4 linked regions of the Homo sapiens genome follow. The protein of the gene in region 3 interacts with the protein of the main gene of each other region in a biochemical or structural test. Each region holds a gene or a part of one and is shown on either strand. Other genes may lie near its edges. The genes, in order: PEX5, MARK4, USP9X and CDC123.

Evidence for each region.
Region 1: of the proteins of USP9X (region 3) and PEX5, one has a biochemical effect on the other in vitro, tested with the Homo sapiens proteins (one study listed by BioGRID).
Region 2: the proteins of USP9X (region 3) and MARK4 form a complex in vitro, tested with the Homo sapiens proteins (one study listed by BioGRID).
Region 4: of the proteins of USP9X (region 3) and CDC123, one has a biochemical effect on the other in vitro, tested with the Homo sapiens proteins (one study listed by BioGRID).

What each region holds. Positions count from the first base shown.
Region 1 is NC_000012.12:7,199,667-7,206,705, reverse strand, and holds part of PEX5 (peroxisomal biogenesis factor 5), read right to left. Parts: intron 4,956-7,039; coding exon 4,865-4,955; intron 4,466-4,864; coding exon 4,355-4,465; intron 4,095-4,354; coding exon 4,002-4,094; intron 3,275-4,001; coding exon 3,155-3,274; intron 1-3,154.
Region 2 is NC_000019.10:45,275,258-45,282,296, reverse strand, and holds part of MARK4 (MAP/microtubule affinity-regulating kinase 4), read right to left. Parts: intron 4,375-7,039; coding exon 4,255-4,374; intron 3,782-4,254; coding exon 3,682-3,781; intron 1,924-3,681; coding exon 1,814-1,923; intron 1,723-1,813; coding exon 1,563-1,722; intron 1-1,562. UniProt on the Homo sapiens protein: Serine/threonine-protein kinase. Phosphorylates the microtubule-associated protein MAPT/TAU. Also phosphorylates the microtubule-associated proteins MAP2 and MAP4.
Region 3 is NC_000023.11:41,228,406-41,235,444, forward strand, and holds part of USP9X (ubiquitin carboxyl-terminal hydrolase 9X), read left to right. Parts: intron 1-847; coding exon 848-1,004; intron 1,005-1,161; coding exon 1,162-1,374; coding exon of another isoform or gene 1,375-1,422; intron 1,423-2,095; coding exon 2,096-2,191; intron 2,192-3,981; coding exon 3,982-4,119; 3' UTR 4,120-7,039.
Region 4 is NC_000010.11:12,248,175-12,251,115, reverse strand, and holds the end of CDC123 (translation initiation factor eIF2 assembly protein), read right to left. Parts: intron 1,536-2,941; coding exon 1,398-1,535; intron 806-1,397; coding exon 779-805; 3' UTR 527-778; downstream 1-526. UniProt on the Homo sapiens protein: ATP-dependent protein-folding chaperone for the eIF2 complex. Binds to the gamma subunit of the eIF2 complex which allows the subunit to assemble with the alpha and beta subunits.

The sequences.
Region 1 (7,039 bases), on a different chromosome or scaffold from region 3:
GATAAAGAATCAAAAACACTTAAATCTTACCAGCAAAATTCTAAGTCATGATCAGATGCAAATTATTTGTCACAAATGAAAATTAAATAATTACAATGGGGGGTTTAAGAAGAAAGACATATTATAGTAGATTTGAGATAAATGTATAGAAAGTATATTTATATTGAAAACAAGTGTGTTTTTGGACATCTCTGCATAATATAAAAACTAAGAAGGCAGAAAATGACGCTAGTCCAGTGATCAGCAAACTTTTTCTGCGAAGGGCCAGATAATAAATATTTCAGGCTTCGTGGATCTGCTGCAACTACTCACCTCTACTGTTGTAGTGCGAAAGCAGCCAGACATAAGTAAACAAATGAGCACGGCTGTCTTCCAATAACATTTTATTTATGGACACTAAAATTTGAATTTTATATAATTTTCACTTGTCACAAAGTATTACTCTTTTGATTTTCTCCAACCATTTAAAAATGTTAAAACCATCCTCAGCTAGTGGATCACTAAAAACATAAAGATTTATCCCACAAGCCAGTGTGCTGGCCCTTGCCCTAGACTATTACAGTTCAATAAAATAAATCCTTCTGCATTCAACCTCAACTATTGTTCATCATTAATACGTGTTTTAAGCCACTCTACAGAAAACAGAGATTACTGTCATCTATAATGCAGTTTCCTAATAAAAGTAATTCCTGCCTCTCAGAGCCATTGAGAACATCAAATGGGAATCTTCACCAACGCCTTACCAAAAAGCTTAAGATACTATCTGTAAATAGCTATTATCCTCACTGCTCTAGATACTTCCTTAAGATATGATGGCCTGTATATGACAGCCAGAAGTGATGCGAATGCTCTTCAGGTGTCTTCATTAGATAATACAACAACTCAATGCCACCATCTTGCAACCACAGGATTCTCTAAGTTTCCTCTCATCCATATTATCTACCCTCCTTGAAGTCTCATCAATTGCTGATCAAAGAGGAATTTTCCAAAATTAGAATATTTGCATAGATGATGGAAAAAGAGTACTCTGGGGGATCCCTCAACAACCCACAGAACACAGGATAAGCTTGGCTTCACTGTTACATCCTGAAAAGCCAAACCCAAGTCATTAATTTTATCTGATACACGGTCTGGTCTGCTCCAAAATCTCATAGGATCAAACTGCAGAAATGATCACTACAAAGAGTTTGTCCCATCACATACTTCTCTTTTATCATAATAGTATATTAATATCTGCCTGAGCTGCAATGTAAATTGTCTCTGAAAATATAAGGGCTATCAATAAACAAACAGTGCATTCAAAGAGATCCATGAATTTATGTAACAATCAAGAGTCAAGTCCTTTGTTTTTAAAAAGTTCTATTGACATGGAATTCAATATTAGCTTAAAGCCAGATACTGTCTAATTGCTTACTACATCACTTTTTGAGGAACATTAATGCAAGTATTTCTAGTCCTAATTTTGCAATATCCCAAAGTATCAATGATATCAAGTAGGGCTCAAGAATCTACAAACATACTTTTAAAGTTTTTAATTAAAAAATGTATTCTGGATATGACACCAAAAGCTCATATCCCAAAAATCATTGCAAAGACTAATGTCAAGAAACTTTCTCCCTATGTTTTCTTCTAGGCATTTTACGGTTTTGGGTACTGCATTTGGGTCTTTAAGCCATTTTGGATTAAGTTTTGTACATAGTGTGAGGTAACGGTTCAGTTTCACTCTTTTGCACATGGATATGCAGTTTCTCCAATACCATTTATCGAAAAGACTATCCTTTCCACATTTCTATTCTTGGAACCTGATCAAATGTGATTTTTTTTCTAAAAAAAAATTTGCTTTCTAATTTGTCACATTGTTCTATGTGTCTGAAAAAAAAAAATGTATTCTGGCCAGCATGTCATAAATACGAGAGTAATAAATGATAAAAGAAAATGCTGCTCATACAAAACTAGTATTATGTCTATATGTATGAAAAGCATGGACATTTTTACATAAATGTACAACTTTCCATTTATAAGTTGATGGGGCCTATGTGACTTATCAAATTGTTAATACAAAATAATAACAAAAGTGTTATCTATATTTCCTTCAGTTCTTCCTTATCAAAATTATATACAATGAACTCATAGTCTAGTGAAATACATGGCAAGGTCCCAGCTGTCTTTTCCCTTATATCACACAGGATAGTTAGAAAAATCCAGATCAGACTGGAATAATAAGCAAAATCATATTTTTCCTAATACTGTTCTTCACTGGCTCTCAAACTCTAGCCTTTTTCTGAACTGCATCTTCCCATCTTTGCATAGCTCCCTTATTACATCAAGATCCATCTCCAGCACCCTGGTTTGCATCTCAGGCCCTGGTTCCAGCCCCACAATACTTTCCCAACCAGATCTGAACTGAGAAAAAGACATCACTACTCACATCCCCAGTTCCTGTTTTGCCTTTTTTCAAAACCAAGTGATTCTTTCCCCTCTTCATGTTTCAACTCAGGAGCTCAGTTATTAAACACATCCCCAAATATCCTACAACCCACAGGTAGATTTGTTTTTCAGTAAGACCCCAGAAGTAACATATGCTTCTAAGTCAACAGCACATGCTATAGGCAAAATGCAATCATCTTTCATACTACTAAGAAATTTCCCTAATATTTAAGTTATCTAATATAAATTCTTTGAAAACCCTAAATTAGGGCAAGTGGCTACTACCTATAAAAGATAAGAACTTAAAATGAATATGTGAGTTTAAAAAGTAAACAGATATTAAGATGTGGAGGCAAAGGGATAGTCTGTCCACTAACACTCCCCACCAAAGGAGTCAGCAGTCTTCTCAAAAAGCTCCCAATCTGACCTCCAAGCAGAGCTACTTCCTCTGTGCTTTTAATGCAGCAAGCATGTGCAAACCTCCTTCACAGGTGTTATGTACTGGACTGTCGTTATTGACAAAGATAGTCTCATTAACATCTATATCCCAAGAATAAAGTTTATACTCAATCACTGAAGAGGAAGGGCAAGGGAATTATTCAGACTTCTTTTCGTGGAAAGGGACTCAAGAAAATACTTAAAAGCACCCTTCAAATTCAGGATTAAAGGAAAGACGTTAAAAAGAAGGAAGTTCTGGAACCTGAAAAACTAAGAGTTTTTACCTCACCTTATCATAGGTAGCTGACGTAAGGTCATCATAGTCAGAAAGCCAGGGGTGGGCCTCAGCATCCCGTTTTGCCATCTCCTCCAACTCTGCCTGCAACTTGTCCCAGAAATCGACATCAGACTGTAAGGAAGGGAAAGCAGATAGAAAAAGGAGATCCATCATGACCACCCCACCCCACACTCAGCTCTGCTGGGATTCTCTAAGGCAGCAGTTCTTGAATTTCAATATGTTTAAGAATCATCTGAATAAGTTTTTTAAAATGCAAATGGCCAGATGCTATCCCCAGATACTGATTTAGTAGTCTGGGGTGATGGCCAGAAATGTAATGTAGTGCAGTGCAGTGCAGTGCAGTGCAGTGCAGTGCAGTGCATAGTTTAGTTTAGTTTTTTGTTTGAGACAGAGTTTCACTCTCGTTGCCCAGGCTAGAGTGCAATGGCGTGATCTCATCTCGTTGCAACCTCCACCTCCCAGTTTCAAACATTTCTCCTGCCTCAGCCTCCCAAGTAGCTGGGATTACAGGCATGCGCCAACACACCACGCTAATTTTGTATTTTTAGTAGAGACATGGGGTTTCTCCATGTTGTTCAGACTGGTCTCGAACTCCTAACCTCAGGTGATCCACCCACCTCGGGCTCCCAAAGTGCTGAGATTACAGGCATGAGCCACCATGCCTGGCCCAGAAATCTGCATTTTTCAACAGCACCCACCCCATCCCCAAGCAACTCTGACACAGATGATCCAGGTCCACTATGAAATACAATTTGCATCATCTTTGATGTTCATACACCCACTCACTCCAAGGAGTGTTTTCTTTTGGGGTGTCTGCTCCTGCACTATCTGCTCTCACCTCTATAGCTGACTTGGCTCGTTCAAACTCCATATCAAGGGCAGATGTGTTTACTGGTCTTGTGAACTGGTCAACCCAGGCATCTGATGTACCCTGCGACAAAAAAGGATGGTCAGTACCACTACCACCAACTTTCTATCCATCAGACGCACACTAAATACCCACTAACCACCACCAACCTGGGTACTTCTGAGAAAATCATTCTCAGAATCTCTTTCCCACCCACTTGGGACCTGGATGCTATCAAGACAAGCTGGTCTTATCCTTCCCCATCTGGGACCACTGACCACTGAACCCATGGCCTGGGGCATCAGCTGGCTCTGAAGTGGGACTGGAAAGTGACAATGTCCTACCTGCTGCTGTATAAACTCTGCTGCCCACTGTTCTGCCTGAGCTCGGCCCGACCCTGCACCGGACTCCAGGGACACCTGCCCTTCGCCAATCTGCCGCACGAATTTCAGGAACTGGGGCACAGAGACACACACAGGCCACTTGGGAAAGGACTTCCAGGTGTGCACTCTCAACCATGCCCAAGAGGACCCTGTACTCACCCCTCCCCTGACCATCTCTAGCTGCAGACAAGATATGCTAAAGACCCTAAAAGAGGTAGAGAGCAAAAAGAAAGGGATTTCTGGCTCTAAAGACTTGCAAAGGCATCAGAAAAAAGAGTTAGTAGGCAAGGAGATGAGGGAATGAACACTAGAAGGAAGAGGCAGGATCTTAAGTCTCTGTTCTATAGACAGGAACGAAGAGACCTAAGATCTCTTCTCCTTCTCTTTAAACTAAACTGGGGTAAGAAAAGCAAGATTCTTGCCTTCCAAAACCAGCTCTGCTGGGCAAAGCAGCAGAGGGATGTGGCTCACCTCAGAATTAGCCAATTTGGGGTCATCCACTTTGGCCACAAAGTCACTGGCCGTGTGCTGCAGATCCTCCTCAGGATGATATTCATCATACCTGGAACGGGTAAGAACTAATTTTACACATTAGTCTGCCATCACCCTCCCCATGCTACTCCCCACTCCTAGCCCATGACAATGACAGTTCCTGTGAGGGAACTCCATTCTCCTGTTGAGAACCTACAAACTCCAATTTGCATTATAGAAGGACATTTGGGCAGGAGTGTGAAAGTACTAGCTACATCCTTCTAGCTCTCCCTTTCCCAAACATATCTTTGCATACAGATGGGATAGTAGCAGGCTCAAAATTAAGAAGGGAACAAGGTAAAATTATGAACTTTAAGATGAAGTTATGAACGTCATATAGGATAGTTAGGATTCTTGAAAAATATATATATATTTACCTATATACATATATTTTAAAAGTCTGAAAACTCCCTTCCTCCCAAATATAGCTGATATGTATATATACGTGTATGTGTGTATGTATATACATGTGTATGTGTATGTGTGTATACATGTATGTCTATGTGTGTGTATACATGTGTACGCATGTATCTACATGTTTACATATGTATACGTGTGTATATACATGTATGTGCACATGTATGTGTATGTATGCGTGTGTACATATGTGTATGTGTGTATATATGTGTGTGCGTGTGTGTGTGTGCACGCACACATGCATGCGCTTTTGGTTTTTTAAAGACAAGGTCTTACTGTGTTCCTCGGGCTAGACTTGACCTCCTGGGCCCAAGCAATCCTCCCACCTCAGCTTCCTGAGTACAGGCACACAACCACTGTGTCCTTGACTACATTTCAACCATAAATTCACAGGAGTAATAACCCAAGGGGAAATCTTAAAGAATAAAGTAAGCCCTCTCCCTCTCCCTCTCCCTCTCCCTACGGTCTCTCTCCCCCTCTCTTTCCACGGTCTCCCTCTGATGCCGAGCCGAAGCTGGACTGTACTGCTGCCATCTCGGCTCCCTGCAACCTCCCTGCCTGATTCTCCTGCTTCAGCCTGCCGAGTGCCTGCAATTGCAGGCACGCGCCGCCATGCCTGACTGGTTTTCGTATTTTTTTGGTGGAGACGGGGTTTCGCTGTGTTGGCCGGGCTGGTCTCCAGCTCCTAACCGCGAGTGATCCGCCAGCCTCGGCCTCCCGAGGTGCCGGGATTGCAGACGGAGTCTCGTTCACTCAGTGCTCAATGGTGCCCAGGCTGGAGTGCAGTGGCGTGATCTCGGCTCGCTACAACCTCCACCTCCCAGCCGCCTGCCTTGGCCTCCCAAAGTGCCGAGATTGCAGCCTCTGCCTGGCCGCCACCCCATCTGGGAAGTGAGGAGCGTCTCTGCCTGGCCGCCCATCGTCTGGGATGTGAGGAGCCCCTCTGCCTGGCTGCCCAGTCTGGAAAGTGAGGAGCGTCTCTGCCCGGCCGCCATCCCATCTAGGAAGTGAGGAGCGCCTCTTCCCAGCCGCCATCCCATCGAGGAAGTGAGGAGCGTCTCTGCCCGACCACCCATCGTCTGAGATGTGAGGAGCGCCTCTGCCCCGCCGCCCCGTCTGGGATGTGAGGAGCGCCTCTGCCTGGCCGCGACCCCGTCTGGGAGGTGAGGAGCGTCTCTGCCCGGCCGCCCCGTCTGAGAAGTGAGGAGACCCTCTGCCCGGCAGCCGCCCCGTCTGGGAAGTGAGGAGCGTCTCCGCCCGGCAGCCACCCCGTCCGGGAGGGAGGTGGGGGTCAGCCCCCCGCCCGGCCAGCCGCCCCGTCCGGGAGGGAGGTGCGGGTCAGCCCCCCGCCTGGCCAGCCGCCCCGTCCGGGAGGGAGGCGGGGGGTCAGCCCCCCGCCCGGCCAGCCGCCCCGTCCAGGAGGGAGGTGGGGGTCAGCCCCCCGCCCGGCCAGCCGCCCCGTCCGGGAGGGAGGTGGGGGTCAGCCCCCTGCCCGGCCAGCCGCCCCGTCCGGGAGGGAGGTGGGGGTCAGCCCCCCGCCCGGCCAGCCGCCCCGTCCAGAAGGTGAGGGGCGCCTCTGCCCGGCCGCCCCTACTGGGAAGTGAGGAGCCCCTCTGCCTGGCCACCACCCCGTCTGGGAGGTGTACCCAATAGCTCATTGAGAACGGGCCATGATGACAATGGCGGTTTTGTGGAATA
Region 2 (7,039 bases), on a different chromosome or scaffold from region 3:
GACCTCTCAGAAGTCTCCATGCCTAATGGGTGCTGATGGTGGTGTGTATCCTTTTTTTTTTTTTTTTAATTTTTTTGAGATGAGGTCTCTCTGTTGCCCAGGCTGGTGTGCAATGGCATGATCTCGGCTCACTGCAACCTCCGCCTCCCAGTTTCAAGCAATTCTCCTGCTTCAGCCTCCCGAGTAGCTGGGATTATAGGCACGCACCAACACGCCCAGCTAATTTTGTGTTTTTAGTAGAGACAGGGTTTCACCATGTTGGCCAGGCCGGTCTCAAACTCCCAACCTCAGGTGATCCACTCACCTCGGCCTCCCAAGGGATTACAGACATGAGCCACCGTGCCTGGCCCAGATTTAAACTCAGACTCTGTATTCATTTTCTGCAGCAGATGAGATGTCTGTCAGTTGCAGAATGTGGGGTATAATCAGCTGTCCGCCCAGCTCTCTTCCAGAGCCTCCTTTACTTCAGTGTGGAGGCAAAGCCAGAGGGCAGACTCTCAGCAGCCACTTTGTACAACGTGTCCTCCTGTGCCCCAGTTACAATGGATTAATTCAAACTTGACTCTGATATCAGAGCTTCATCCTGGACCAGAGATTCCAGCTGCCATTTGGACTGGTCTCTAAGGTAAGAAATTGGGGGCTGGGTGCAGTGGCTCACACCTGTAATCCCAGTACCTTGGGAGGCTGAGGTGGGTGGATCATGAGGTCAGGAGTATAAGAGCAGCCTGGCCAACATGGTGAAACCCTGTCTCTACTAAAAATACAAAAATTAGCCAGGTGTGGTGGCAGGTGCCTGTAATCCCGGCTACTCAGGAGGCTGAGGCACAAGAATCGCTTGAACCCAAGAGGTGGAGGTTGCAGTGAGCCAAGATCACGACACTGCACTCCAGCCTGGGATACAGAGTGAGACTCTGTCTCAAAAAAAAAAAGAAAGAAAAGAAAAGAAAAGGCTGGGCACAGTGGCTCACACCTGTAATGCCAGCACTTTGGGAGGCCGAGGGTGGATCACGAGGTCAGGAGTTCAAGACCAGCTTGGCCAACATGGTGAAACCCCATCTCTACTGAAAATACAAAAATTAGCCGGGGGGTTATGGCAGGCGCCTGTAATCCCAGCTACTCGGGAGCCTAAGGCAGAAGAATCGCTTGAACCTGTGCAGCAGAGGTTGCCATCAGCCAAGATCACACCACTGCACTACAGCCTGAGGCACAGAGTGAGACTCCATCTCAAAAAAAAAAATCGGGGAGCTGGGACATCAGGAAAAAAGATAGGATGAGATAAGTGAGAGACAAAGGAAAAACCACACAAGCAGAGAGGAAGCAAGACAGAGAGTGTCTGCTCTGGGTCTGGCTGCTTTTCCGGTTTTAATCCCTTCCTGAGCCTGGCTGTGCATTCCTGCCTCCAAGTTCCATGCAATGCCCTGTGTCTTTATAAGACATTCCTCCCTCTCTGAGGTTAGCTCCAGTGGGTTTCTGTTGCTTGCCAATCAGAGAACCCTGACGTAACTGTAAGTCTGGGCCTTGGGGAGAAGGAGGGTGCGTGAGGGCGTGGGGTTGATACTCACAGAAATCGCTATGCCTGCGCTGGCGGTGGTAGGTGGAAGAGGAACTCCGCTGCCCTTTGCTGTGGCTGGTGCCTTTGCTGGAACTTGTTCCGTTGGTGGTGTCGCTGGGCGCCCGCACCCGTGCCAGGGCCAGCCCTGGGGCGCCCCGGTCCCCACCCTCCTGCGAGAGGATGACAGATGAGGCTCTTCTGCACCCCAAGTCCCTCCACCCAGGCATCACGCGTCCCCAAGGGCCCCTGGCGCCCCCTGACCTCAGTCTTCCTGCCCAGCAGGAGGTAGGTGGCGGTCACTTCGTTGTACTTCTGGCTGGTCAAGGACTCTTTGATTTCTTCCCGTGTGTAGCCCATACCCACCATCACCTCTGGGAGGGGGGGATGGAGAGAAGTTTCAGACTCCCAGAAACTTTAACTTCCATCCATTTCTCTTTTTTTTTGAGACAGGGTGTCACTCTGTCACCCAGGCTGGAGTGCAGTGGCACGGTCACAGCTCACTGCAGCCTCGGCCTCCCCAGGCTCTGCTGATCCTCCCACCTCAGTTTTTGTATTTTCAGTAGAGACAGGGTTTTGCTATGTTGTCCAGGCTGGTTTGAAACTCCTGGGCACAAGCAATCCACCCACCTGGGCCTCCCAAAGTGCTGGGATTACAGGCATAAGCCACTGCACCTGGCCCACTTCCACTCATTTCTGTGTCATTCACTGGTGTCTGCTCTTTGACCTGTCCAGTACCCATCCTCCCTTCCCAACAGCACATTGATTTCCTTTGAAAGAACATTCTTTCCGCTCAGATCACGTGGATGGCTCCCCTGCTCCAACCCTAAGGCAGGCGGATAACCCAGGTCTGGCTAATTAGTGTGTTCTACACCCAAAGCCACACTGACTGCTTCATTGAAGGCATGTGACCCAGATCTGCTTGCCTCCTGGAGAGCAGCCTGGGAAAAAGCTACCACAGAAAACATTCCCAACAACTGTCTCTGAGCACCTGGATACAACTGTGCCTGAAGGCTGCATACTCTATTCATTTTAGTTATGTGGCAGAATAAATCATCACTATTAGGTTAAACCATACAAAATTGGTGGTACTGACAATTTTAAACCAAAAAAATGGCAATTTCATATGGTTCAACTTTTTGTTGTGTTCAACCTACTAATATAATTAGGTTGATACAAAAGTAATTCCGGTTTTTGCCATTTAATGGTAAAAACCGTAATTATTGTTATTTTAGATGGAATTTTGCTTGTCGCCCAGGGTGGAGTACAGTGGTGCAATCTCAGCTCACTGCAACCTCTGCCTCCTGGATTCAAGCAATTCTCGTGCCTCAGCCTCCAGAGGAGCTGGGATTACGGGTGCCTGCCACCACACTCATCTAATTTTTGTATTCTTAGTAGAGACGAGGTTTCATCATGTTGGCCAGGCTGGTCTCGAACTCCTGACCTCAGGTGATCTGTCAGCCTCAGCCTCCCAAAGTGCTCAGATTATAGGCGTGAGCCACTGTGCCTGACCTTTTTTTCTTTTTTTGAGACACGGTCTCACCCTGTCGCCTGGAGTGCAGTGGCATGATCATAGCTCACTGTAGCCTCAAATTGTTGGGCTCAAGGGATCCTCCTACCTCAGCTTGCTGAGTAGCTGAGACTACAGGTGCACACAACCACAACTGGCTAATTTTTTATTTTTATTTTTTTGTACAGACAGGGTCTCCCTATGTTGGCCAGGCTGGTCTCCAACTCCTGGGCTCAAGTGATTCTTCTACCTCGACCTCCCAAAGTGCTGGGATTACCAGCATGAACCACCTCGCCTGGTCTCTCTTTATGTCTTAATATCAAAGCGAACATGGGCCGGGTACAGTGGCTCACACCTGTGATCCTGGCAATTTGGGAAGCTGAGGCAGGCAGATCACCTGAGGTCAGGAGTTTGAGACCAGCATGGCCAACATGGCAAAACCCTGTCTCTACTAAAAATAACAAAAATTAGCCGGGCATGGCGGCAGGCGCCTGTGGTCCCAGCTACTTGGGAGGCTGAGGCACAAGAATCTCTTGATTCTGGGAGGCGGAGGTTGCAGTGAGCCGAGATTGCACCACTGCACTCCATCCTGGGTGACAGGATGGCTCTCCCTGACCCTCACCAATTCTCTTGGTGTCCCCGAAGTCCTCCTCGGGCTCTGTGTATGGCTTCAACTCCTCACCCTCATAGCCGATGTTGATCCATTTGTCTTTCATGATTTGCTGCAGGCATCAGGAGCAGGGAAGGGGGAAGACAGGTGTCAGAAGGAACCAGAAATCATACAGCTTCTGCCCTGCCCCAAACCTCCGAGGCCTAACACCCAGAATTGCGGGCTTCCTAAGAGATAGCGCCTCCTGGGCCTCTCTCTCCCCCACGTCCCCTGCCGGAGCCTCCTGATGCCACCCTCCCTCCTCCGCATCATCTGGGTCCCTGGCACCCTGTAATCATCCTAGGAGCTCATTAGCTAATTACTGGCAAGGCAGGGAGTGGGTGAGCCTGTCGGGGGGGTGGCGTCAGGACAGGCCTGGGAGCTTTTCCCTGGACGGCCTGTCTACCCCCACTCACCAGCAGCAGATCTTCGGTGGGCACAGGAGAGGAAAAGTGTGTCAAGAAGGCTTTTGTGGGTGGGGGCAGGCAGAGTTTAGGGGAGTCAGGAGACTAGAAGGGCTCCCGCTGGCTGTGAGGCTGGGCTCACCTCGAGAGTACAGCGTTTAGCTGGGTTCAGCACCAAAAATCTCCGCAGGATGCTCTCACAGTCTGTTGACATGTAGAAAGGGACCCGGTACTTCCCTCTGAGTACTCGCTCCCGCAGCTCCTGCAGGGATGGGGTTACTGGAGGAGGGGGTCTGCCCCGCCCCCCACCTATTACACACACACACACACACACACACACACACACACACACACACACACAACCTTTGTCCCAACCCCTTTGATAGAAGTGACAGAAGCTCTGAGTCCCAGTCCTTGACGAGGTAAGCAAAACCCCATTCCTTTCTCCTGACCTCAGTTCCCTGTCCATAAAATGGGAACATCATATGGACGCTGCAATTTAAAAAAAAAAATTCTTGGCCAGGCGTAGAGGCCAAGACCGGAGGATCGCTTGAGCCCAGGAGTTCAAGAACAGCCTGGGCAACACAGGGAGACCTCATCTCTACAAAAAATAAAAAATGACCTGAGCATGGTGGTGCACACCTGTAATCCAAACACGTTGGGAGGCCGAGGGAGGAGGATAGCTTGAACCCAGGAGTTCAAGACCAGCCTGAACAACCAGCCTGTCTCTACAAAAAAAAAAAAAAAAAAATTTAAGCTACATAACTTTTCATTCAGAGGAAAACTTGCAGAGAAAGTTTATTATCTGGCCAGGCACGGTGGCTCACACCTGTAATCCCAGCACTTTGGGAGGCCGAGACAGGCAGATCGCCTGAGGTCAGGAGTTCGAGACCAGCCTGGCTAACATGGTGAAACCCCATCTCCACTAAAAATACAAAAATTAGCTGGGTGTGGTGGTGGCTGCCTGTAGTCCTAGCTACTTGGGAGGCTGAGGCACGAGAATCACTTAAACTCTTAGGAGGTGGAGGTTGCAGTGAGTTGAGATCACGCCACTGCACTCCAGCCTGGGTGACAGGGCGAGATTCTGTCTCAGAAAAAAAAGGAAGTTTATTCTCTAAGTCAGGTAAGAGGGAGGTAGGTAAGTGAGTCAGCCACTGGGGCCTCGGTCTCCTTATCCGTGAAAGGGATTACAGGACCCACTTCACATGCTTGCTACCAGGGTACAGGTGAGTTAATATCCGTAAAAATGTGGCTGGGCGCGGTGGCTCACGCCTGTAATTCCAGCACTTTGGGAGGGTGAGGCAGGCAGATCGCCTGAGGTCAGGAGATCGAAACCAGCCAGGCCAACATGGCGAAACCCCATCTCTACTAAAAAAAAAAAAAATACAAAAATTAGCTGGGTGTGGTAGCAGACCCCTGTAATCCCAGCTACGCGGGAGGCTGAGGCAGGAGAATCACTTGAACCCAGGAGGCGGAGGTTGCAGTGAGCCGAGACTGCGCCACTGCACTCCAGCCTGGGCGGCAGAGCAAGACTCCATCTCAAAAAAAAAAAAAAAAAAAAATCTGTAAAATGCTTACCACATGCCTGGCCCAGAGCCAGAGAGCGGTATGTAAATATGAGATTCACTCAAGGGGAAGGAGACCCTACTGCCTCTCCTGCCTTCTCGTCTCTCCCCTCCCCCAGCCATGCCTGCTGTCCAAAGAGACACACTCCTCAAGGCCATTCATGGATTTATCTGCTGGCTTTCTCTTTAAGGGCCTTTTATGAGAGGCCCTACCAAAGCTGTGAAAAATAAGATAAATCCATAGCTTGGCAGACCAGGGGGAGCTCTTTCCATCTGAATAAAAAACCGCAATAGGCCAGGCGTGGTGGCTTATGTCTATAATCCCAGCACTTCGGGAGGCCAAGGTGGGAAGACCGCTTGAGCCCGTGAGTTTGAGACCAGCCTGGGCAACACAGCGAGACTCTGTCTCTACAAAAAATACAAAAATTAGCCAGGTGTGGTGGCACATGCCTGTGGTCCCAGCTACTCAGGAGGCTGAAGCAGGAGGATTGCTTGAGCCCGGGAGGTTGAGGCTGCAGTGAGCTGTGACTGCACCACTGCCCTCCAGCCTGGGTGACTGAGACCTTGTCTCAAAAAACAAACAGACAACAAAAAAAACGAAGGGAGGCAGAAAACAGGTAGGAATGAATTGAGCGTTGGGGGTGAACAGGACTCCTTTAGGACAGAGTCCTCTGCTGCAGCATTCTCCTAAAAGGGCTGAAAGATGCCCATGCCTGGGGAGCCTCTGCAGATCATAAAGGGCTATTAATATTTAATTTGGATCACTTTCAGGACACTTACCCCTTAGCAGGCAGTGTTCTAAGTGCTTTATGCATATTACATCCATTTTCACAACGCCGCGAAGCCCGGTTATAACGCCCACTTTCCAGACGAGGAGGTTGAGGCCTGGAGGGGTTTGGTCACTTGCCCCAGGATTGCACAGCCAGAAAGTGGCAGAGCCTTGGCTCTGGAGCCTGTGCTGTGTGACCACCATGCCACACTGCCTATCACGTGATGGGGGAGAAGAAACCATCAGGCCACCACTGCCACCTCCAGCGCAGCTCCCAAGCATGATGCTGTGGCCAGATGCCAAGCTCCAGTGAAGGGCTTAACATATGCAGACGGGCTGCAAGCAGATGCTTTTTTTTTTTTTAAAGAGACAGGCTCTTGTTCTGTCACCGAAGCTGGAGTGCAGTGGCGTGATCATAGTTCGCTGTAGCCTGGAACTCCTGGGCTCAAGCAATTCTCCCACCTCAGCATCCCAAGTAGCTGGGACTACAGGCATGCACCACAATGCCAGGCTAATTTAAAAAATATTTTTTGTAGAGATGTGGTCTTGAAATGTTGCCCAGGCTGGTGTCAAACTCTTTTTATTTTTTTGAG
Region 3 (7,039 bases):
GAGAAACTGAAATGAAATCCTGTGTTATTGGCAAATCAGCCAAATTGTACTATTGCCTGTCAAAATGCTTTGCCTGCCATGTATTCTCATTATTAGAATTCAAATACTGTACCTCCAAATTATGTCACTGAATCCTAACTTGCCTTCAGAGATGCAGTTTTATAAAAGGTATTGATGTGTAGCAAATTACCCTCAACTACAGCAGTCATAAACTTAGTTATAACTTTTTTAAAGTTTGCATTACTCTCGAGTGTCCTGAATTCACTTCAGGTAATGTGTTTAAATTACATATATGGCAGAATTATTTTGGACTGGTAATAAGTTAGTAAGAGCACAGACTCTGGAGTCACACTGCTCCGCAGCTATATGACCTCGGCAAGCTGTGTAACTCTGTGCCAATTTTCTCACCTGTTAAAAGTTTTAATAATAAGGCCAGGCGCAGTGGCTCATGCCTGTAATCCCAGCACTTTGGGAGGCCGAGGCAGGCGGATCACGAGGTCAGGAGATTGAGACCATCCTGGCTAACACGGTGAAACCCCGTCTCTACTAAAAATACAAAAAATTAGCTGGGCGTGGTGGCACGTGCCTGTAGTTGGGCTGAGGCAGGAGAGAGGCGTGAACCTGGGAGGCAGGACTTGAAGTAAGCCGAGATGGCGCCACTGCACTCCAGCCCAGGCCGTCTCAAAAAAAATAAATAAATAAAAAATAAAGGTTTAATAATAGTACCTATTGTCTAATGTTAGATTAAATGACTAAAAGACATTATTGAGTGGCACATAGTAGGCACTCAGTATATATTAGCTATTAGATTTTAGATGTTTTTATTTTATATCTGGTTCTCTTTCAGAATTCATAATGCACTGAAAGGAATTCCAGATGACCGAGATGGGCTGTTTGACACAATCCAGCGCTCTAAGAATCACTATCAAAAAAGAGCATACCAGTGTATAAAATGTATGGTAGCTCTATTTAGTAACTGTCCTGTTGCTTACCAAATCCTGCAGGTGAGGATTTTTTTCTTATAATTTTGTAGAAATCTTAATCAGAATTAAGGATTCTGTTTTAAAAGAAGAGAATCATGAGAACTTGGGGTTGTCATTTTAAGTTAACTTTGAAGTATTCCAAATCCTCTTATCTATATGGTTTTATTTTCTTTTGCAGGGCAATGGAGATCTTAAAAGAAAGTGGACCTGGGCAGTGGAATGGCTTGGAGATGAACTTGAAAGAAGACCATATACTGGCAATCCTCAGTACACTTACAACAATTGGTCTCCCCCAGTGCAAAGCAATGAAACGTCCAATGGTTATTTCTTGGAGAGATCACATAGTGCTAGGATGACACTTGCAAAAGCTTGTGAACTCTGTCCAGAGGAGGTAAAAAAAGCCACCAGTGTGCAGCAGATAGAAATGGAAGAGAGCAAAGTAATTCTTTATTTTATAGGCCAGTGTTTATGTATTAATGATATTATTAAAAGATTATGTTGAAGTTTTGGGTTTTGAAAAATGTTTATTCGGCTGGGCATGGTGGCTCACGCCTGTAATCCCAACACTTTGGGAGGCCGAGGCAGGCGGATCACCTGAGGTCAGGAGTTCAAGACCAGCCTGGCCAACAAGGTGAAATCCCATCTCCACTAAAAATAGAAAAATTAGTCGGGCGTGGTGGCAGGCGCCTGTAATCTCAGCTACTTGGGAGGCTGAGGCTGGAGAATGACTTGAACCCAGGAGGCACAGATTGCAGTGAGCGGAGATCGTGCCAGTGGGCTCCAGCTTGGGTGACAAGAGTGAAACTCCATCTCAAAAAAAGAAAAGAAAAGAATGTTTATTCTATGTCATTTTAAGCTAATGAAGGGAGCTTTCTTTTGGAGAAATTTCTGTGAAATTGCCTGAAATGTAGTAGTTCTGAGAGAATGCAAATCAGGTTTTTTGTTTTGTTTTTTTTTTTTTTGTTTTTTCCCCAAGTTCTTTATCTGCAGTAAAAGAAAAGTTGCTAATGGGTCAGTTTTGTAGATTTTTAAAATTTATTTCAAATAGAAAAAGTTAAAAGTAAACTTGAGTTTGCCTACGTAATTTTTTATCTTGAAATATTCAAAATTAGGAGCCAGATGACCAAGATGCTCCAGATGAACATGAGTCGCCTCCACCTGAAGATGCCCCATTGTACCCCCATTCACCTGGATCTCAGTATCAACAGGTAAACAGGAGTCAGTTTATGCTTTTATCCCCTAGAACTGGGTTTTATGCTTAATTTTAGAGGATGGCTCAATTGTTTGTTGTGACTACAAAGTAAGAAGTAGGATTATCTAGACTAGCTTTGGGAGCATGATCCAGAAGAGGGATGGTTTGGAGTGGGGGTCATGGTGTAACATGTTTGAACTTAACCACTGTAGGGTTTTCCTTGTCAAGAAGGTGTCCTTCTTGTGCTAGTAGTTAATAAAACTGTATGAGAATTTATATCAACATAAAATGATCATTGTTTAGTGCAAAGGATTGTGGTGACATTTCCGGTGAGGTAAAATCTTCACCTGGATTCCAAAAACATTATTAAGATATGGCAATGAAGTAAGAAGTCCTTGGTTACTTAGCCACAGGTTTCAGTGATGGTAAAAATCACTGGAAAAAAAAGGATTTGGGTAGATTTCCATAGGTGATTAAAGTAAATAAACTAGTAAATAGCAAAAGAAATGAGATGAAGAAACATTCTAAATGATAACTTTTTCTTTCTGAAACCAAAATGTGACTAAATCAGCTCTTGTGAGGCAGTGGTACTCAAACTTGCACAGGCGTGAGTCTCCCTGGAAGGGTTGCTCCAGCAGAGAGCTAGATGCTACCCTAAAGTGTCTTATTTCATAGGTCTTCAAGGGGCTGGAAAATGTACATTTCTAGCAAGTTCCCAAGTGATGCTGCTGGTGGTCCAGGAACCATACTTGGAGAAACATTTCAGGCATTCTTTCTTACATTTCACTGTGTACATAGAAGCAAACTGAATAGTTAGGAAGTACACATTCAGCGTACTTATTTTCATCTATAGAAAGTAAAGCCTGGCCAGGCGCGGTAGCTCATGCCTGTAATCCCAACACTTTGGAAGGCTGAGGCAGGTGGATCACCTGAGGTCAGGAGTTTGAGACCAGCCTGACCAACATGGAGAAGCCCTGTCTCTACTAAAAATACAAAATTAGCCGGGTATGGTGGTGGCGCATGCCTGTAATCCCAGCTACTCAGGAGGCTGAGGCAAGAGAATCTCTTGAACCCAGGAGGCAGAGGTGGTGGTGAGTCGAGATAGCACCATTGCACTCCAGCCTGGGCAACAAGAGCGAAACTCCCATCTCAAAAAAAAAAAAAAAAAAGTTAAGCCTAAAATCTTGGCTTGGCTGATGGAGCATGTACAGAAAAATGAGAGCACTGTAGGGTTCAGACATTTTAAAAGGTTAAGGAACCAAATCCACAAGGAAGGTTAACTTCCTTTGACCCTGAGAAAGCTCTTATGTTAATCATGCCTGGTTACTTTATCATCTTGAACATTGTTCTGTTTTTAATCAGCATTATTGTGAGTTCAGGGTTACTGCTCCTATATATCTTACATCATGGTTAGTCAATCGGATTTAGCATGTGGAAGAGTCAATAGATGCTCATAGATCATTCTCTGAAAATTTTTTACCAAGAGCAACAGTGGGTTAATCCTTTATTTGCCAGACTTGAGTCTAAATAATTTTTGGCACTAAAAATCACTTTGGCCAAAGATTTATGTGGACCTACACAATCACTGCTCTTATTCAGGGTTTTGGGGTTTGCATTTACACTACGTTTTTCAAGCCTTTTTTTGTTTTTGTTTTTGTTTTTGTTTTGCACTATAGTAGTCCAAGGGTATTTACAGAGTAAGTCCCAAGAATAAGAGTATACATTTCCAGAGACTTCAGACCATGATTTTGAAGTTGTTTTACTATGTGAAAAGTTTTAACATACAGATCTTTTCTCCTTTCCCAGAATAACCATGTGCATGGACAGCCATATACAGGCCCAGCAGCACATCACATGAACAACCCTCAGAGAACTGGCCAACGAGCACAAGAAAATTATGAAGGCAGTGAAGAAGTATCCCCACCTCAAACCAAGGATCAATGAAATGCACATAATTAACTGGTTCCATCAAGACTGTGCACCCAGGCCTTACAGTCCAACCTTTTTCTGTGTCTGGCTAATATTTAAAACTAGAAAAACTATTCCTAATCAACATGGAGTGGAGAGTTTATTCACTGTCTTATCTGCAGAAATTTGCTGTCAATATATAACCCGCCTGCAGTGGAAAGTGTATAGTGTTTTGTAATAAATGGCCTGATGCTAATGTGTAAATGGCAAAGGTGTATATAGTATATTAATGTTGACTGTTAATTCTTAAGCAAGAAACTTTTTTCTTGATGAGACTCACAGATCTACACAAACTACAAAAGTTAATTTTCTTGTTACACCCACTGCACTCTGCAACCAGTGTTGCCTGCCTCATGGCAGTTGGATCAGCTCCTTTACAAAAAAGAAAAAAAAAAAACCAACAGCAACAAAACAGAGCCCATCCATGTCAGCCACACCAATAGTTTCATGTTAATTCTTTGCCACTGGAGTCAATTTTGCTATGAGCAATGTAAGGCTGGTAACCTTTAAATTATTTGGTTGATGTGGAAAATTGGTGATGTAACACTGTTTCTAGATTTTTTTCATTGCCTTTTTATTCTGATATTAGGTTAATCACTTTGAAGCTATAGTTATGCTGTAACATTTAGCATGGCTTCACACCAAGTTAGTGTAGCCAATGAGGAAAAAGTTACCATAATGACAGCAGTTGTCCGAGAAGTGACAGCTGTATTACTCAGAGCTTTTACTTCTTACACCTAGAATATTAAAATATAAAACAAGGGGAGAAATGTGACAGTCTATTTTCAGTTGCACATATGTTCCTTATATATAATGTTTGACAGTTCAATCTCTGGGTGGAATAAAGAACACTTACGTATCAGTAATGGGAATTTTTAAAGATTTAAAACAAATATGCAAAAATTTGCTATGCCAAGATGCTGGAGCATAATATAAGACTGTATTTGGTGTGCTTGTTTTGTTTCTTTGGTAGAGTTTATTAGGTGAATCTTCTAAAACTTTCCTTCTGTTGGATCCCAGTGACGTGGAAGTCATCAGAACCCCACGGTACTTGGAGTACCTCTCTGCACCAAGATAGCTGGCTGATTTTCTGCTCAGTCACAATTTTACTTGAAAGCAAGAATTGTCCTAGCTCCTTTTCCATTATTCCAAAACGTTTAACGTTCAAAGCAGGGTCTCATTAAAAAAGAAACTACTGGTTGATATAATTGAGATATTACAATTTCAGAATAAACATTTGATTAAAAATAAGGAAATCCTCAGTTCATACTGTATTTAAAAGAGAATTGGTAACTTGAATGTGTGTAATTTTTTGGAACCTGTCTAAAAACCAAATACCCCTGCAAACAGATACAGCCCACCCTATTCTATTTAAATATTTTGCTGTTTTATTTTATAGAAATTATTTTGCTGAATTCACAAATAGAATTTGATTTAAGAAGAACTTTTTGTCCTGTGGTGTGTTTTTGGTTTTTTTTTTGGTTACTTTTTTTGTCCTTTTTTTTTTTTTTTAAAAGAGGACTGCATATTAAAATTCATTCTGTGCATAGCATGCCTAGGCATGACACTGATTCAGGATTTCAGTCACATCAAGTTTTTGTGCACAGAAAGATTTGACCTTTGGCCCTCTACTGAAGATTTTGAGAAATCAGGATGTTGACACTGTAAAAGTTTCCTAACATAATCTTGTACTTTTTGTATGTTTTTTATATACATGTATATTTAATGAGCACAAGCTTGGTTGTATTTTTTACAATTCAGTTAATAGGGAAATGTTTTGTCAAAAGGCTACACTTGGAACTGAACAAAGCAGAAACAAAATTGAGCATTGCATTATTTTGTGATTAAAAGGGGCAGGTATTTAAGATAAAGCTTTGGGTATCTTATTTGTAGTACTGTATAGTCAACCTGTGCTTCTAGGTGTTCCTGTAGGACATTTTGACACCGATACTTTGAGTGAAAGTCACACACGGTGTTTGCAATTCCAACTGATTTTTGTTTTGTTTTTATTTTTTTGTTGTTTTCTTCTTTGAGATGGAGTCTTGCTCTGTCACCCAGGCTGGAGTGCAGTGGCACAATCTTGGCTCACTGCAACGTCGCCTCCTGGGTTCAAGCGATTCTTCCGCCTCAGCCTCCCGAGTAGCTGGGATTAGAGGTGCCCACCACCACGCCCAGCTAATTTTTGTATTTTTGTAGAGACAGGGTTTCACCACGTTGGCCAGGCTGGTCTTGAACTCCTGACCTCAGGTGATCTGGCCGCCTCGGCCTCCCAAAGTGCTGGGATTGCAGGTGTGAGCCACCGCGCCTGGCCCCAGTTGATAGTTTTTTTAATTTAAAAGTTCCTCAATTCCAAGCTCTTTAAACGAGTGAAATAGGTTAACTTTATTTGGATGAGTTAGGTGTACCATCTCACCATCTGAGAGGAGATTTATATATTTCCTGCTGCTCCTTAACAAAATATGTAATGTACTTAAAAACTTTAACGACTTCCTAGTTGAGAGAAAACTTGACATATAAAAGGCTGTGAATTTTTCTGCTTGGAGGAAGAGCCCAACCTTGGTTGCTTTGAAGTTACAAGCCCCCTTGTGCCAGGTGAGGGGCTTGTGAGTCATTTTTGTCTCCATTTGAGGAAGAGTGGTATTCGTTGTGACTAGGAGCAAGGGAAAGTGGAGTTATTTTTGTTTGTGCAAATTATTTTCTATATTTAACTCAAGCATTAATGTATAACCAGAAATTTAAAGATGCATGTTGTTGCAAGAGCAACATAATGGTGATTTTGAGGTCTTTTTCTGAACACAAGTGGCACATTTTAAATTTCAAGTCTTCAAAGTGCCTAAGGATTATTTAGTTCTCCCTCAACTGATTTTTTGAGCCATATATTTCCTATTTTAAATGT
Region 4 (2,941 bases), on a different chromosome or scaffold from region 3:
ATGGCAAAACCCCATCTCTACAAAAAAATACAAAAATCAGCTGGGCGTGGTGGTGTGCACCTGTAGTCCCAGTTACTCAGGAGGCTGAGGCAGGACTGCCTGAGTCCAGGAGATTGAGGCTGCAGTGAGCTGTGATTGTGCCACTGCACCCCAGACTGGGCAACAGAACAAGACTGTCCCTAAACAAAACAGGGCGGGCGTGGTGGCTCACACCTATAATCCCAGCACTTTGGGAGGCCAAGGTGGGCAAATCACTTGAGGATCAGGAGTTCCAGACCAGCCTGGCCAACACGGTGAGACCCTACCTCTACTAAAAATATAAAACTCAGCTGGGTGTGGTGGCATGCACCTGTAATCCCAGCTACTTGGGAGCCTGAGGCAGGAGAATCGCTTGAACCAGGAGGTGGAGGTTGCAGTGAGCCGAGATCGCACCAGTGCACTCCAGCATGGGCGACACAGCGAGACTGTCTCAAAAAATTAAAATTAAAATAAATAAATAAAATAATGACTCGGTAGAAAAGCAACGTATTTCATAGAAAGCATTTTATTATCAGAACAGTATGGTTTTCCTATGTTTAAGATCTATTTATTATGTTATTTTTACAAGTAGCAAAGTCCCTCCGTTTTTTTCCCCAGGTGAATGTACATGAATATAAAAAGTGGCTGATGTCCACACTGCTCGGCCCACCCGCATCAGGGTCGGCAGGAAGTTGCGGCTGATGAGCAGCTCCCGGAGCGGTGGGGCGGGGCCTCCTCTTCTCCAGTTCCAGTACGCTCATCAGTCGTCCTCCTGCTGATTTCTCTTCTGTCAAAGAAAACCAAGGGGATGTTAAAATAGCACATGCTCCTTGGGATATCTGCTCAGCAGGTGTAATTTTCTAGAGGTCTTGGCAAAGGATGTAATTAAAAATTGTCATGGAAAACCATGCTTTAATTCATTAAACTAGTTTATCACTTTGACTCCTGAGCAAATTATCCTCAGGTATTTGAGTATTTTCTTCTCTTTCTTCCATACATACAAAAACTCCTACACAGAAATCCACACAAAAATATAAATATTCACATCCCCTCTTGAGTAAAATCACCACCAGAGCAGAGACCTGCTCTCCTTACAGCCTTCTAACAATATACACACTTTCTTCAAAGTTACAAGTATTTTGAAAAATGTTCAAAAGGCATGTACAGCATAAAAACATTTTCTGTCATTCTAATCAATAAATTATGCCTTCAGCTCCTATTTCATATTTAATTAGAAAATGCTCTAACTCAGTAACTTGGTTCCATTCATAACCATCAAAGTCTAGGTGATACAGGATTCCAATGAAATATTATATAAAAGCCAATTTGAAGGTCTATTTGAAAAGATGGCCAGCATACTAAATGCACATAGACTTTACCAGCTTAAGGAAGTCTATTAGCTTGTGAGCGTCCTCCCCAGTAGAGAGGTCTACAAAGTCCTTGGGTAGCCGGTAACTCAAATAGGGGCTGGGCTGGACTGTCACTTCACTGTTTGTGCAACGGAAAGCTGGGGAATCCTGTACAAAGAAGAAAAAGGAGAAAGAATATCAATCATTTATTTTTAGGCCTATTCTGTGAACTAAAAAAGAACCTAGCAAAACAATTTCAACTCCATGTTTTCCTCTGTACTTGATGAGGAGAAAGGAAGATGCTTAAGTTAAAATGAGCCGGGCACGGTGGCTCACGTCTGTAATTCCAGCTGGAGTGCAGTGGCTCACTGCAGCCTCGACCTCCTGGGCTCAGGTGAACCTCGCACTTCAGCCTCCCAAGTAGCTGGGACTATAGGCATGCGCCACCACGCCCAGCTGAGTTTTTTAAATTTTAGTACAGAAAATATCTCAGTATGTTGCCCAGGCTGGTCTTGAACTCCTGAGCTGAAGCAATCCTCCTGCCTTGGCCTCCCAAAGTGTTAAGATTATAGGCTAGGTGGGCTGTTGCACCCATGCCAAACTATTTTTTTTTTTTTTTTTGAGGCAAAGTCTCGCTCTGTTCTCAGACTGGAGTGCAGGGGCACGATCTCTGTTGCCCAGGTCTCTGTTGCTCACTGCAACCTCTGCCTCCCAGGTTCAAGTGATTCTCCCACCTCAGCTTCCCAAGTAGCTGGGACTACAGGCGCGCGTCACCACGTCCGGCTAATTTTTGTATTTTTAGTAGAGATAGGGATTTCACTATGTTGGCCAGGCTGGTCTCAAACTCCTGACCTCAGGTGATCTGCCTGCCTCGGCCTCCCAAAGTGCTGGGATTACAGGCATGAACCACCATGCCCAGCTGCCAAAACTAATTTTTTTTTTTTAGACGAAGTTTTACTCTTGTTGCCCAGGCTGGATGCAATGGAGCAATCTCAGCTCATCGCAACCTCCACCTCCCAGGTTCAAGCGATTCTCCTGCCTCAGCCTCCCGAGTGGCTGGGATTACAGGCATGCACCACCATGCCTGGCTAATTTTTTTACTTTTAGTAGAGACGGGGTTTCTCCACGTTGATCAGGATGGTCTCGAACTCCCAACCTCAGGTGATCCACCTGCCTCAGCCTCCCAAAGTACTGGGATTACAGGTGTGAGCCACCGCACCTGGCCTGTTTTTTTTTTGAGACGGAGTCCCGCTCTGTCACCCAGGCTGGAGTGCAATGGCGTGATCTTGGCTCACTGCTGCAACATCCGCCTTCCAGGTTCAAGCAATTCTCCTGCCTCAGCCTCCCAAGTAGCTGGGATTACAGGCATCTGCCACCATGCCCAGCTAATTTTTTGTATTTTTAGTAGAGACGGGGTTTCACCATGTTGGCCAGGCTGGTCTCGAACTCCTGACCTCAGGTGATCCACCAGCCTCGGCCTCCCAAAGTGCTGGGATTACAGGTGTGAGCCACTACGTCTGGCCCAAAACTATTTTTTAAAAGATATAAAATGCTCACAAGAGAACACTGTGAAA